Homo sapiens: one gene and its partner. The protein of the gene in region 1 interacts with the protein of each later gene in a biochemical or structural test. Each region holds a gene or a part of one and is shown on either strand. Other genes may lie near its edges.

What was found. Proteins that work in one complex are often made in the same cells at the same time.
Region 2: the proteins of UNC13D (region 1) and RAB27A form a complex in vitro, tested with the Homo sapiens proteins (one study listed by BioGRID).

The regions. Positions count from the first base shown.
Region 1 is NC_000017.11:75,827,405-75,834,404, forward strand, and holds part of UNC13D (protein unc-13 homolog D), read right to left. Parts: coding exon 6,921-7,000; intron 6,740-6,920; coding exon 6,671-6,739; intron 5,642-6,670; coding exon 5,562-5,641; intron 3,945-5,561; coding exon 3,839-3,944; intron 3,766-3,838; coding exon 3,694-3,765; intron 3,258-3,693; coding exon 3,174-3,257; intron 3,079-3,173; coding exon 2,958-3,078; intron 2,748-2,957; coding exon 2,624-2,747; intron 1,580-2,623; coding exon 1,383-1,579; intron 683-1,382; coding exon 561-682; 3' UTR 1-560. UniProt on the Homo sapiens protein: Plays a role in cytotoxic granule exocytosis in lymphocytes. Required for both granule maturation and granule docking and priming at the immunologic synapse.
Region 2 is NC_000015.10:55,286,789-55,294,469, forward strand, and holds the start of RAB27A (ras-related protein Rab-27A), read right to left. Parts: upstream 3,026-7,681; 5' UTR 2,928-3,025; exon of another isoform or gene 2,664-2,927; intron 121-2,663; exon of another isoform or gene 1-120. UniProt on the Homo sapiens protein: Small GTPase which cycles between active GTP-bound and inactive GDP-bound states. In its active state, binds to a variety of effector proteins to regulate homeostasis of late endocytic pathway, including endosomal positioning, maturation and secretion.

The sequences.
Region 1 (7,000 bases):
GTTCTTGGCTCCAGGCTTCCTGGCCTGGATGCTGGCAGCCCCTGGGGAGAGGACCCAGGCCCCCTCTAGTAATGGCCACCACCCTCCCCCCAGGGCAGCTGGAGCCTCATCTTTGGCAGGGTCCCCTCTCCCTTTTCCAGGAGACTCTGTGCCTGTAGCCCTGGTCCCAGTGAACCTGGCCCCCACCCCAGTGGCTGGAACAGGAAGGCCAGGAGGCAGATGGGCCAGGGCCAGGAGACAGATGGCCCAATCCCCTGCCCACCACAGCAGCTTTTCTGAGAGGCGGGCAGGGGCAGGGTTTGCTCCCCCTGGTGCTGGGATGTGGTAGAGACATTGCAGCCAGGGCTGGAGGCAGGGAGGCGGGAGTAGAGATGTCGCTGCTGAGCCCCCATCACCATGGGAGGCAGGGGAGGTCTGCACTCTGGGCACTCCGCATGCTGGGGCTCCCCAAGTGTTAGGCCAGGCTGGAGGGCCGCGATGTGGCGGGGAAGCCCCAGACCCTACAGGAAAGCCCTTGCAAGTCCCCACCGGGGACCCAGCCCCACCGCAAACCTCTACGGCTACGGTGCCGGCCGCAAGGCATGCTGGGAGGCCTGCTTGGCCCGGTGCCGCCGCAGCCTCACAAAGACCTGGGCTTCTCGGTCACCCTTCCGGCCCTCCAGCAGCTGCAGGATTGGGTCCCCTGCGGAGAGAGGGGTTTGGGGGTCAGATGCCAGGGGAGAGGGCAGTGCCTGGTGGTGGCAGAGAAGAGTGTGTGGGGGGGTACACAACACTGCTCCATCTCCCCAACAACCTGGAAGGAAACAAGTGACAGACCCGCGCCAGCCCAGCCCAGGAGGTGGTCTGACAGACGCATCCGGTCGGGTCGCGTAACAGACAGAGTGCTGCTGGGACACTGTCCTGACTGCAGCGAGGGGCTGAGATGTGCCTGAGGTTTGACTATTACCTTTTTATACGAGAACCTAAAGCTAGCAAGTTAACCTTTTCATGCCTCGGTTTACTCATCTGTAAAAGAGTGCTAATATCTGCTTCGTTGGCTGGAATGCATAAAGTGCTTAGCACTTGCTCATAATAAGTGCACAAGCATCAGACCGTTGCTGGTATCAAAAATGCTCTGCAGGGAAGCGGCCCCGCCGAGTGAGATCCAGGCCCTTCTCCCCAGTTAAACTTCTTGGTGACTTCCCCATGCAAGGAGAGTCACGTTACACTTAGCTTAAAGTTCACTGGTCTCTTGATTAGACCGAGAGATGGGCCGTGGCTGTCCCACTGGCTCCCGTCTCCAGGGAAGCTGTTCTCCGACCCTGGCATCACCTCTCTGGGGCCCCTGCCTGAGCTTTACAGGCTCCCGTCCCCGCACCACCCTGCCCTGGGCTCAGGCCTACCGTTGGGTGCGGGGTACGTGAGGGGCAGGCGGGTCTGAGGCACCTCACCAGGCTCCTCAGAGCCACTCAGCCCGGGCACCTCACGCAGCGGCAGGAAGGCCTCGCCTTCCAGGTCGTCGGCCCCCAGCGTGTCGTAGTCCAGCACGGTGAGCAGGAGGCATGCCCCAGCCTTGCGGCACGGCTCAGCAGGCACCAGGCTGCGGGGAGAGTCAGGGCTCTGCTGCCAGCCCCAGCACAGCCACCCCAGCCTCGGCACATGGGTTCACCCACTTGGTGTTGGGAACCAGCCAGGGTTTGGACTGCAAAGCCAGCTCTCAGCCTGGCACCTCTCAGCCATGTGGTGCAATGCCTGCTCTGACCGTGGGCTGATGCTTTAAACCAGCGGTCCTGTGTTCCCTGTTCACCTGTGCTGAGGAACTAGGAGCAGGTTACTGAGAACCTCAGAGACAGGACCCTTCCCTGGAAGTCCCTAAGTTAAACACCTGGGAGTCCACCCCTTCCCCCAAGGGAAGCAAACTTTTTTTTCTGAGACGGAGTCTTGCTCTGTCACCTAGGCTGGAGTGCAGTGGCGCCATCTTGGCTCACTACAACCTCCGCCTCCCGGGTTCAAGTGGTTCTCCTGCCTCAGCCTCCCGAGTAGCTGGGACTGCAGGCGTGTCCCACCACACCCAGCTAATTTTTTGTTTTTAGTAGAGACGGGGTTTCACCATGTTAGCCAGGATGGTCTTGATCTCCTGACCTCGTGATCCGCCCGCCTTGGCCTCCCAAAGTGCTGAGATTACAGGCATGAGCCACCACGCCTGGCCCTCTTTTTTTTTTTTTTTTTTTTTGAGATGGAGTCTCACTCTGTCGCCCAGGCTGGAGTGCAGTGGCACCATCTCAGCAGCCTCTGCCTCCTGGGTTAAGCAATTCTCCTGCCTCAGCCTCCCGAGTAGCTGAGAGTACAGGTACCCACCATCATGCCCGGCTAATTTTGTATTTTTAGTAGAGACTGTTGGCCAGGCTGGTCTTGAACTCCTGACCTCAAGTGATCCGCCTGCCTCGGCCTCCCAAAGTGCTGTGATGACAGGTGTGAGCCACCACATCCAGCTGCAAACTCTTGTCCCAGATGCCCCATCCCTTGGGCCCAAATGTGGCCATCTCAGGGGAGCCCCTTGGCCCCAGCCAGGAGGAGCAGGCCTGAGGGAGCCCAGTGGGGAGAGATGAGGGGAGGGACTGGGAGAAGAACGGGACCCACTCACAATTCAAAGGTCTCATCAAACAATGGGTGAAGGTCCTTCTTGTGCTTCTGGGTCTCCCGGGCGGCCAGCTCAGGGAACTCATGCCTGGGCTCCAAGGTCAGCTGGACAAAGGGGTCGCTGGAGCCTGGTAAGTGGCCGGGGAGTGTGCGTCAGCTGAGGGTCTCCCAGGCACCCCACCCCAGCAGCTATGCTCTGCTCAGCGGCACTGACCCCTCCTGGTAACTGGAGGAAATGCACCCAGAGCTCCTGCAGGGTGAGCGAAGCCCCCAGGGTCGCTGAGACAGGAGGGCCAGGACGGGACCATGGAGAGTGGCCAAAGGCAGCCTCCACTCACCATTGGAGTCCAGGGGCAGCAGGCTGGAGGCGCTGAGCAGCTCCACACGCAGCTTCTGCTCAGAGGCGCGGTAGGAGGCCTTGACTGTCACAGCCCCCAGCTCCTCAGAGGTGGTTTCTGCCTGGGGTGGGGAGCAGGGGCAGGGTCAGCAGGGTCACAGCGGGAGCGGGGTGCTCCAGGGCCTGCAGAGGGCGCAGTGCGAGGGAGGGGCCTCACCTGCTGCTGGATTCGGCTGCAGAAGTACTTCCGGATGAGTTCCCGGCTGGAGGCCGCCTGCAGCTCCAGGTCCCTCTGCAGAGCCTGGGAACACATACAGCTGAGGATCCACCTGGACTGCACGCCCAACCACAGCCCAGGCCTGCCCTCCAGGAGCTCACTGTCAAGGGTAACATGTCCGTTTGAAATGGAAAGTATTGGGTCATGGGACAACGGGCTGGGGCCACCCTCAGGCCAGACAGACAGCAGGAGAGGCACAGACAGGGCTGGCTTCACAGGCGTGCTTCCCCGACCCCACCCCCCATGCGGGCACACAGGGCCCCTGTGCTTAGGAGGACCCAGGCTTGGTTTCAGGTTCTGTCGTCACCGTTCTAAAATTTGTAATAACTTTTGAATAAGGGGCCCAGTTTTTCATTTTGTACTGGGCCCCATAAATTATGTAGCCGACCCTGGACATAGGTGAGTGCCAAAAGGCAGGCTCCCCAGACTTCCTACGGGGAAGCTCACCCAAAGCCCCTACCTGGAAGGTGGCAGTGTGCAGGGCCTTGGGTGGCAGGCCACAGCCCTCAGCGTGGAAGCAGATCTCCAGGTTCTGGGGGAGATATCAGAGGTGACCCCAGGCACCCTCCCACCAGGGTTATCATTGCTGTGACCGGTTCTGTTACCTGCAGGGCAATCTTCAGCCTGTTGGAAGCCAGGGATGAGCTGCGCTGGGAGGCGGCCGCCTCCACCAGCACTGTGAGTGTGTGGGTCCAGAGCAGGGTCAGGAGGCTGGGGCGGGGCCGGAGGGATGCGGACACAGCACGGCAGGGCGGTGGCGGAGGAGGAAGCAAAGACGCTCTTGAGAAAGGGGCGGCCTCAGTGACCCAGCCCCACCCCAGCTCCTCCCACCCCCAACCTCCCCCTCCGCCTCCCACCCCAGGTGAGGCTGGGGAGAGGGTGGGTACAGGACCAGCAAGGGGCAGGTGGGATCAGTCCTATCCAACACACCTCTCAACCTCAGTGAGGAACCCTCCCCAGCACACTAACGGAATGCACAAACAAGGCTGGAGACAGGGAGGAGGCCAGGCCCCCAGTGACAACCATGATTTAAGACAGAACCAGGCCGGGCGTGGTGGCTCACGCCTGTAATCCCAGCACTTTGGGAGGTCGAGGTGGGTGGATCAGGAGGTCAAGAGATTGAGACCATCCTGGCCAACATGGTGAAACCCCGTCTCTACTAAAAATACAAAAATTAGCCAGGCATTGTGGCACGTGCCTGTAGTCCCAGCTACTTGGGAGGCTGAGGCAGGAGAATCGCTTGAACCCAGGAGGCGGAGGTTGCAGTGAGCCAAGATTGCACCACTGCACTCTGGCCTGGCAACAGAGCAAGACTCCATCTCAAAAAAACAATTAGCCAGGCATAATGGCATGCACCTGTAGTCCCAGTTACTCAGCAGGCTGAGGCAGGGAATCACTTGAACCCGGAGGCGGAGGTTGCAGTGAGCTGAGATCGCGCCACTGCACTCCAGCCTGGGCGACAGAGCGAGACTCCGTCTCAAAAAAATAAAAAATATATATACATGGTTTAAGAAATAAAAACGGCCGGGCTCCGAGGGGCCCTGGCTTATACCTCTGGGGGTGGAACAGAACTCTAGGAGGGCTGCGGCCTCTTCAGGGCCCAGATTCCACAGGGAGGTGGGGCGCTGTCATCATCATCGTCACTACCGCTAATAGTCACTGACCACTTCCTTTGTACTGACACCACGCTCAGCACCTCACATGACCCATTTAATCCTCAACAGAAGCCAGAACTACTCTCATCTGCACCGGGAACTTGCCCAAGGCTGCTAAGCAGTGATGAAGCCGGAGTCTGAACCCAGGTGGTCCAGAGCCCATGTGCTGGACTCCACCGCCTGTTGCCTGGCATGCTGGGTCCCTGCTATAAGACACCCTAGCTAGAAGTTCTCCCTGCACCGTGGGCAGGGACCACCTGTAACCTAATGGGGGCAGAGGAGCAGGCAGGGAGGCCCTGAAGACAGGCCTGGGACTAAAGGAGAAAGGACAGGTAGATTTTGGCTCAGCCTAAGGAAGAACTCAAAGCACTCAGAGCTAGGCAGCAGGAAATGGGGAGGCCTGAGAAGTGGCAAGCTCCCCGTCCCTGCAGCGAGCCTTAGCAGAGCCTGTTGCACCCATAAGGGAGGTCACCAAAGGGATTCACCTCCACCCCTCAGAACGGATGCTGAGGCCCAGGAAAGAGGGGCCGTGGGAGGAGAGGGGGAGGTGGCGAGCGCGCCCAGGGCAGGGGCTGCTACACCCCTCAGAACGGATGCTGGGGCCCAGGAAGGAGGGGCCGTGGGAGGAGAGGGGGAGGTGGCGAGCGCGCCCAGGGCAGGGGCTGCTACAGACCTGCTGAAGTTCTCCTGCACCAAGTTGGTGTTCATGTAGCAAAGCTCCACCTCCAGGAACTTCATCAGGGGCAGAATGGCCTGGGGAGGGAGATGGGGAGCAGGTGTGGCTCCGGCCCATGTTGGCCCCACCCCCATCCCCTTCCCCTGACCTGGAGGGAGGAAACAGGGCTGGGAACCGTTCTGTGAGAGCAGTTTGTAGTGTCTGTAAGAGGCCGGCCTGCCCACCTCTCTGCCTTCCCCTCTCCGTTGCTCAGCCTGTCCCAGCCACACTGGCCTCCTCTACAGCCCTGGAACCTTCCAGGCATGGTCCTGCCTCAGGGTCTCTGCCCTTGCCGTTCCCTCTGCCTGGAATGCTCCTCCCCTAGAACTTCTCATGCCTCCTCCCCTTGCTTCCCGTAGGTCTTCGCTCAGTTGTCACGGCCTTCCCTGGCCACCATCTAAAAATACAACCCTCTGACACTTCTCAGCCGCTTCTCTGTTTTAAATTTTCTCTGTAGACTTATCATTATCTAGCACACTGCATGTGTGTGCACGCGCATACACGCCTGTGCATAGAGTTAACAGCTATAACTATCACTATAGTTATGGATACTCACTATGTAGCTCTTTTTTCACCTCCACTACTAGAACGTGGGCTCCAGGAAAGCAGGTATTTTGTCATATTGTTCACTGACCTATCCCCAGTGCTTAAATCAATGCATAGGACAAAGTGGGGACCTAATAAATAGTTGGTGAATGAATGAATATCCTTCTACCCGCCAGTCGAAGGTGTGCATCATGATATGCCCCCACTTACAGGTCAGCTGGCTTGTGTGAACAGGACGGCAAAGCTAGGAGGCAGCTGAGAAGGATGTGCACCCTGGCCTGTTTGGCTGCAAAGTCTAAGCCGTCCCCAACTGCAGCCCCCTCATTGACTGTCAGTGCTGGGACAGCCAGTGGAGTGACCCAACCCGTTCCTGTGAGCATCCCAGGAGGAAACTGAGGCCCAGGGAGAGAACATGCTTTGCCTGGTCTGGGGGACTTATCTTTGACACCAAGGCCTTCAATGACCCCAGATCTACAGAGCTGGCAGGGTGGTGAAGGCCAGCAGGCAGAAGGGCCACTTACATCCTCAGGCAGGACAGACTCCCTGACGCCCACCAGTTTCTGGATGTGCTTGGCGATGCCCACCTCCAACTGGAGACACAAAACGGAAGAAGGAGGGAGGTCAGGGCATGAGTCGGGGATGGAAGAGTTCCTTAGGGCCTGAGTTTAGACGCACGAAGGGGTCAGGGTTGGACCTTGGCCCAGGTGCTGCTGGAGCCAGGTAGGCTGAAGACGGGATGGGATGGGGTGACTGTGCGGTCGGACAAGGTACCTGCTCGGCCAGGGTGCGGACGCCAGTGCGGATCTCATGGCCCAGCCCGGCCAGCGCGCTCTGCAGCTGGGCATGCAGCG
Region 2 (7,681 bases), on another chromosome or scaffold:
GCAGTAAGGGTGGAAGCAGGGAAGCCCTTCAGAAGGCTTTTGCAGTAATCCAGGTGACAGAGATGATAGAACTTGGTGGAAGCAGCAGAAGTGGTGAGAAATGGTTATCATCCTAGATGTATTCTTTTTTTTTTTTTTTTTTTTTTTTTGAGACGGACTCACACTCTGTCGCCCAGGCTGGAGTGCAATGGCACGATCTTAGCTCACTGCAACCTCCGCCTCCTGGGTTCAAGCGATTCTCCTGCCTCAGCCTCCTGAGTAGCTGTGATTACAGGCACCCACCACCACGCCCCGCTAATTTTTGTATTTTTAGTAGATACAGGGCTTCACCATGTTGGCCAGCCTGGTCTTGAACTCCTGACCTCACGTGATCCACCTGTCTCGGCCTCCCAAAGTGCTGCGATTACAGGCGTGAGCCACCGCACCCGGCCTGCTGAGGAATTTAATGTGGGGTATAAGAGAAAGAATCAAGAGTGATTTCAGGGTGTTTGGTGTGAGCATCTGGAAGAGTGAAGTTGCCATTCACTAAGATGGAGAAGACTAGGGGAAAAGCAGCTTTGGGAGAGAAAACTCAAAAATCTGGCTCCTAGAGATTGTTGCTCACTTTAAAACCCTTACATCTATTTTAGAACCAAAACAATAGAAATTGAGAAGCTGACTTTAAATTTCATGTGGAAGGCCAGGCATGGTGGCTCATGCCTATGATCACAGCACTTTGGGAGGCTGAGGCAGACAGATCACCTGAGATCGGGAGTCCGAGACCAGCCTGACCAACATGGAGAAACCCTGTCTCTACTAAAAATATAAAATTAGCCAGGCATGGTGGCACATGCCCGTAATCCCAGCTACTCAGGAGGATGAGGCAGGAGAATCACTTGAACCAGGGAGGCGGAGGTTGCAGTGAGCTGAGATCGTGCCATTGCACTCCAGCCTGGTAAATAAGAGCAAAACTCCATCTCGAAAAAAAAAAAAAATTCATATGGAAATTCAAGGGACTGGATAGTCAAAACAATCTTGAAAAAGAACAAGGTTGGAGGACTCACATATCCTGATTTCAAAACACTATGTAGCTACAATAATCAAGGTAGTATGATACTAGCCTGAGGACAGACATACAGATCAATGGAATAGAACTGACAGTCCAGAAATAAACCTTTACATTCATGGTCAATTTATCTCAACAGAGGTGCCAAAACTATTCAAAGAGGAACAGTCTTTTAAACAAATGGTGCTGAAAGAACTGGATATCCACATGCAAAAAGTTGAAGTCAGACCCCCTGCCTCACACCATATTTAAAAATTAACTTAAAATGGGTCAAAGAATGAAATGTAAGAGCTAAAAACTATAAAACTTTTAGAAGAAAACATAAGTATAAATCTTCATGATCTTGAATTTGACAATGTTTTCTTAACTTTGACATCAAAAGCACAAACAACAAAAGGAAAAATAGGCTCGGTGCAGTGGCTCAAGCCTATAATCCCAGCACTTTGGGAGGCTGACGCAGGTTGATCACTTGAGGTCAGGAGTTCAAGACCAGCCTGGCCAACATAGCAAAACCCCGCCTCTACTAAAAATACAAAAATTAGCCAAGCATGGTAGCACACACCTGTAATTCCAGCTACTCTGGAGTCTGAAGCAAAAGAATCACTTCAACCCAGGAAGCGGAGGTTGCTGTGAGCCAAGATCATGCCACCGCATTCCTACCTGGGCGACAGAGTGAGACTCTGTCTCAAAAGAAAAAAAAGGAAAAATAGATTAAATATACTTCAACGAAATTAAAAATCAAGGCACGTCACAGAAATTAAGGAAGGAAGAAAAAAGGGAGGGAGGGAGGAAGAGAGAATGGTAGAAAGGAAGGAAGAAAAAAGTAGGAATGAAAACATAAAACAACATAAACCAACATAAAATACAGAAAATAATGATCCTCAGTCAAGTTCCTTCAGCATTATATTAACCTTTCTTCACTTCTAACCATCTGCAGAAACTGTTTTCCAGATTGTATTTTCCCTCTAAAGCAAGTTTTTAAGGCCGAAAAAAAAAAAAGAACAAGAACAGTGAGTGGAGAATCAACAAATTTAATTAGCAATGATTACAGAAAACTTAAATAGCACACACAACTCTATAATCCCTCTACCCCCAATTCCAACATCTGACTGATCAACCAACCATAAAATGTGAGAATCCATCCAGAAGGAAAGAACAGCTGTTAAGCTGTAGGGGTAAGGACCCTGTGGCAGAAGACCCTGAGGCCATGTGGGCCCAGGTGGCCAGCAGGAGCGGAAAGGCTGGGAAGGCTCCTCAGTCCAGGGCTCACAAGACTCCCTTCGCTTCAGGCCTGACTTTGCTGAACTGGTGATCTATTGGGACAGAGACAGGCTTTGGCAATAGTTACCAAAGCCTGTCATCATATCTGCACCACCACCAGTCCCGACCGGAGGGCCTGGCTGCCAGGTAGTTTTCAGTCTAACTGACAGGAGAAGAGAGAGCCCCTCCCTCGCAGCTAGTCTGCAGTCCAGACCCTCACCAACCGGAGGGCAACCAGGTTAAACAGTTAAACTGAAAGCAAAAGAGGGAGGAATGAACCGGGGGGCGTGCGGGAGGTCGGGGACTTTCCTCCTTTCCCTCCTGGAAAGTTTCCTACCCCTGATGGGCATCCTCCCACCTGGATGCAACCCGGAGGCGATCTGAGACCCTGGCCGGACCTGGGACCGCACCTGGCCAGCACCAGGCAGTTGTCATCACTGGGGTCTGCGCTGAGGGCCTGGGAGAGAAGCCACTCTTCAGGCGGGCTCGGGCGCCTGGAGGCGGGGAGGAAGGGCGGCGCACTCGGACCCCAGCCCTAGGACGGCCCCAGGGGGACGCCTCGCTCGGCCCTCCCGGAGGGACCGGACCCGCCGCGCGCCTCCCGCTCCTCAGGCCCCCTCACCTGGCTCGCCCCGCCGTCCTGTCCCCGCCTGGCTCGGGTCCTCGCGCGCCGCGTCCACCCGCCGCCGGCCTTTTTTGGGTCGTTGGCGGGTATTTTCCGCCTGGCCCCACATCACTTCCCGTAAAGGAGAGCGAGGTGGGGCGGGACCTTCTCTCCTCCACCTCCCGCCTTCTCCTGTCACCTCGGGAGCGGCCCCCGCCCGGCTGGCGGGGGGCGGGGTGCTGTCGCGCTCTCCCCGGCGGCCGCGCCTCCGAGGGGTCCTCTGTGAGCCCCGAAAAGGCCCCGCTCGCCTCCTTTGTCCCAACACTAGTTTCCGCTGCCCCATTCTGGAAGGCGCTACAAAATATAGGAGTGTTTTCGTTTTGGGACACAGGAGGGACATTTACAAACTGCACCAAGGACCGGTGCGCGGCGAGGTGTCGTTTGGGGACTCTCCCCTATTCACCTCCCCAAAAAGCCATGTTCTAAGGGTGTTTTCCACGGCATCAGTTCGCGGTCGCCACCGTAGCAGCCGGAGGTGCCGGGCGTACTCACGCCGGCCCCGCCCGAGGTTCCCGAGTCCGCGCGGCTCCTGAGGCGGCGTCCCAGGCCCGGCCCTGCCCCCGGCTTCCCGCCCCTGCGGCTCCTGGCTTAGGTCGGCCTGGACACGGCGTTTCCGGGGCAAGGGAATGCCCAGGATTCCTGGAAATAACATGGGAGAAAAATAAGTAAAAAATTTCGCAGGAAAAAAATCAATGTAATTCCGGGAGGAAATGGCAAACGGAGTCTCTGCTCACACTGTGTAATTCAAGAATATAAAACCACTGTAAATTTCTAAGAGTGTTAGAGCAATGAGTTTAAAAAGAAGAAAACTACAGTATGTTAAGGAACCGCCTCTGTCGGAAGAAACCTGCGCGCCTTTGCTGCCACCCAGCGGCTCTCTTCTCCCAGCGCCAACGGTGTCGCTCCGGCCTGCGGGGTAGTGAACCTGGGACTGCGTAGGGGGTCAGACCTCGTGGTTCCCACTCAGAGGCAGCCAAGTTCATCCCTCTCAGTGGCCAGGAGGTGTGAACAGCAGCCCTTGGGCCTGTCCCTATGGAGTCTAAGGCAAAGGCCCTTTGAACCAAATGTTTCCACTTCTAAGCAGAGTAAAATGTTGAGAAGCCTTAGTTCAGCTTCCCTTCTGCCTTCTAAGCCGTCTCGCTGACTTGTGTCTACCTCCACCGCAAATTCCAGCTGTCGCAGGCCCACCCGGTCAACTCCATCACCTTTCCAGTCTGTAGCTACTCACAGTTGGCATTACAGCAGTTAGCTTCTCAGGTGGGTCCAATTTACAAAATCACATATAGGATGAACCATATGAAATTACAAACAGTTGGCAATTTCATACATTTGATATAACATTTCCAGGCAAACATAACACAGTAAACTCGGGTTTAGAGATAACAAATGTCCTAACAGGTTGATAACTTCAAGAGCTCTTCCCGTGTGAGAGAAGGGCCATCAGACTGTTGGTGAGGTTAAGAGAGAAAAAGGCCGGGTTAGGTGGCTCACGCCTGTAATCCCAGCACTTTGGGAGCCCGAGGCCGGCAGATCACGAAGTCAGGAGATCGAGACCATCCTGGCTAACACGGTGAAACCCCGTCTCTACTAAAAATACAAAAAATTAGCAGGGCGTCGTGGCACGCGCCTGTAGTCTCAGCTACTTAGGAGGCTGAGGGCAGGAGAATCGCTTGAACCCGAGAGGTGGAGGTTGCAATGAGCCGAGATGGCGCCACTGCACTCCAGCCTGGGCGACCGAGCGAGACTCTGTTTCAAAAAAAAAAAAAAAAAAAAAAAAAAAAAAAAAGGGAAAAGGTAGCCTCATGTTCATGTCCAGAGGAATAGTCCTGGGAATCACTGATCAGCTAAAATCTGGGAAACCAATAATGTAGTAATTGCTAATGGCTGATATGGCACAGGGAAAGCCTGCCTTCAGCTTTCCCCACTCCTGTGGCCAGGCAAGGCTCTCACCAGGAGTATACCAGACAGGAGATCAGAAAACCTAGGATGGTGCTATGGCCCATTCATCACCCATTCATTCACTCATTCATCAAGTCAGGCACCCTATTAGTAAACAAGGTAAACTGGTCCCTGACGTCAGGACTTACTTGAGAGACCATCGAATAAGTAGGCAACTCCAGTAGTGAGATAAGAGCCTCAATAAAGGAAGTTAAAGAGTGTTATTGGAGCACAGATAAATGACACCAAATCAAGAGAAAGTTAAGGATAAACTTAGAATGAATGAGGGCAAGGGGCAAGGGAGAAGAGAATTCCAGGAAAATGGAGCAGAGGGAAGGCCTGGAAGCAAAAGATAGCATTCAACACTGGAGCAACAGGAAGAGGTTCAGAAAAGCTGAAAGACTGAAAGCAATCAGAAAAGAAAATGGAGAAATAACAGAGGCTGTGCGGTGAATAACCCTGCAATGATGATCATGATCATAACTAACATTTCTTGATCATTTACTATGAGTCAGCCAATATGCTAATAGTTTTGACTACATCACCTCATACGTGTCTTACAACTACTTTATGAAGTAGGTACTATTCTTACCTCTGTATTACAGATGAGGAAACTGAGTCCTAAAGCGATTAAGCAGTCTGACCAAGATCATGCAGCTAATAAGTGGCACAGCCAGGCCTAAAACTCAGAACTCAAGTTTTTAATGGTTCTAAGAATGGGTCTGAGAGGTCAATTAGCACGCTGTAATCCAAGTGAGGGATAATAGCGATCTGATTACGGCAGTGGCCATAAGGATGGAGATGAATGGACATATTTGACATATTTAGGAGAGTGAATCAAGAGGACTGGGATGTAGGGGTGTGAAAGAGAGGCAGTAGTCCATGGGGATGCCCAGTTTCTGGTTTGGGCAACAAGAAACCATTAAGCAACAGGAAGAAAACCTAGTTGCAACCAGGAGGAAGGGTGAAATAGGCCATAGTGATGAGTTTAGGACATTTCCATTTTGACACACTAGCACCAACAGAATATCCAAGTGAAGCTGTTTAGTATGTAGTCAAACAGGCCTATCTGAAGCACAGAAAACATGTGCTGTAGCTATTACCCAAAAGGTACTGGAAGGCATTAGAATCAATGAGCTAATCTAGAAAGTGAGCTGAGAGGGCAATAGGCTTGTTACAGAACCCAGATGAACACCCAGCATTTAAGGCATGAGCAATGGAAGTTCAAAAAGGAATCCAAAAAAAGAGTATCCAGAGAGGTAGGAAGAAAACAAGGAGAGTGTTATTACAGAAACTAAGTACACTGAACACATCTCGTGTGTCAGTTCAAAGTCATCTCTACGCCACTTCTTACTGCAGCCACAGAATCGATCACAGTATACCTCTTGCTTCCCACACTGGGGCTTTTCTGACACTGCTACTTGCAACATGGAGAGTTCTGCCTCCAGTTTTCCTAATAGAATTAAAGTGGATGGAATCAGTAAGAATTCATGGATTTTAATAAATAAATATAGATATATGTATGTGTATATGTATGTATTATCTAGCTCTGTCTGCTAAGAGGTCCTAGAAGCAATTATATCAAAGTAGCTACGAGTACACTTAGCACCTGGATGTTGATTTCTTAATATCCCTTTCCAACAAAAGGAACCAATTACATAATATTATATATGGAAAATCCTAAATAAAAAATCTATTAGTGCTAATAAATGAAATAAGCAAAGATGCAAGATACTAGATCAACACATAAAAATCAGTTGCATTTCAATGTATTAGAAATGAACAATTGAAAAGGAAACTTTAAAAGTTCCATTTACAATAATATCAAAAAGAATAAAATACCTAGGCATAAATTTAACCAAGAAGGTGCAGGATTTATACATTGAAAACCACAAACCACTACTGAAAAAAAAAGAAAATCTAAATAAATGAAAAGACATGGCCAGGCGCGGTGGCTCACGCTTGTAATCCCAGCACTTTGGGAGGCTGAGGCGGGTGGATTACCTGAGGTCAGGAGTTTGAGACCAGCCTGGCCAACTTGGCGAAACCCGTCTCTACTAAAAATACAAAATTTAGCCGGGCGTGGTGGTGGGTGCCTGTAATCCCAGCTACTCGGGTGGTTGAAGCGGGAGAATTGCTTGAACCCGGGAGGTGGAGGTTGCAGTAAGCCGAGATCGTGCAACTGCACTCCAGCTTGGGTGATGAGTGAAACTTCTCAGATAAAAAAAAAAGAAAAGAAAATACATTTAATGTTCATGGAATCAAACACATAATATTGTGAAGATGGCTATATTCCCCAGATAGAGCTACAGATTCAACAACATTTTTGAAGAAATGGAAAAGTGTATGCTAAAATGCATATGAAATTGCAAAGGACCCAAAAATTTAAAAAGTTCATGCTTCCTGATTTCAAAATGTACTACAAAGGTATAGTAATTAAAAAAAAAACCTATGGTATTGATATAAAGACATATAGATAAGTGGAATAGGCTTGAGAGTCTAGAAATAAAATTATGCATCTATAGTCAAGATCTTTCAATGGAGAAAGAAGTTTCCTCAGCAAATGGTACTGGGAGAACTGGATATCTACATGCAAAAGAATGAAACTGAGGCCTGGCGCGGTAGCTCACGCCTGTAATTTCAATACTTTGGGAGGCCAACATAGGTAGAGCCCTTGAGCTCAGGAATTCCAGACCCAACTGGGCAACATGGTGAAACCCTGTCTCTACTAAAAATAGAAAAATTAGCCAGACGTGGTGGCTTGCACCTGTAGT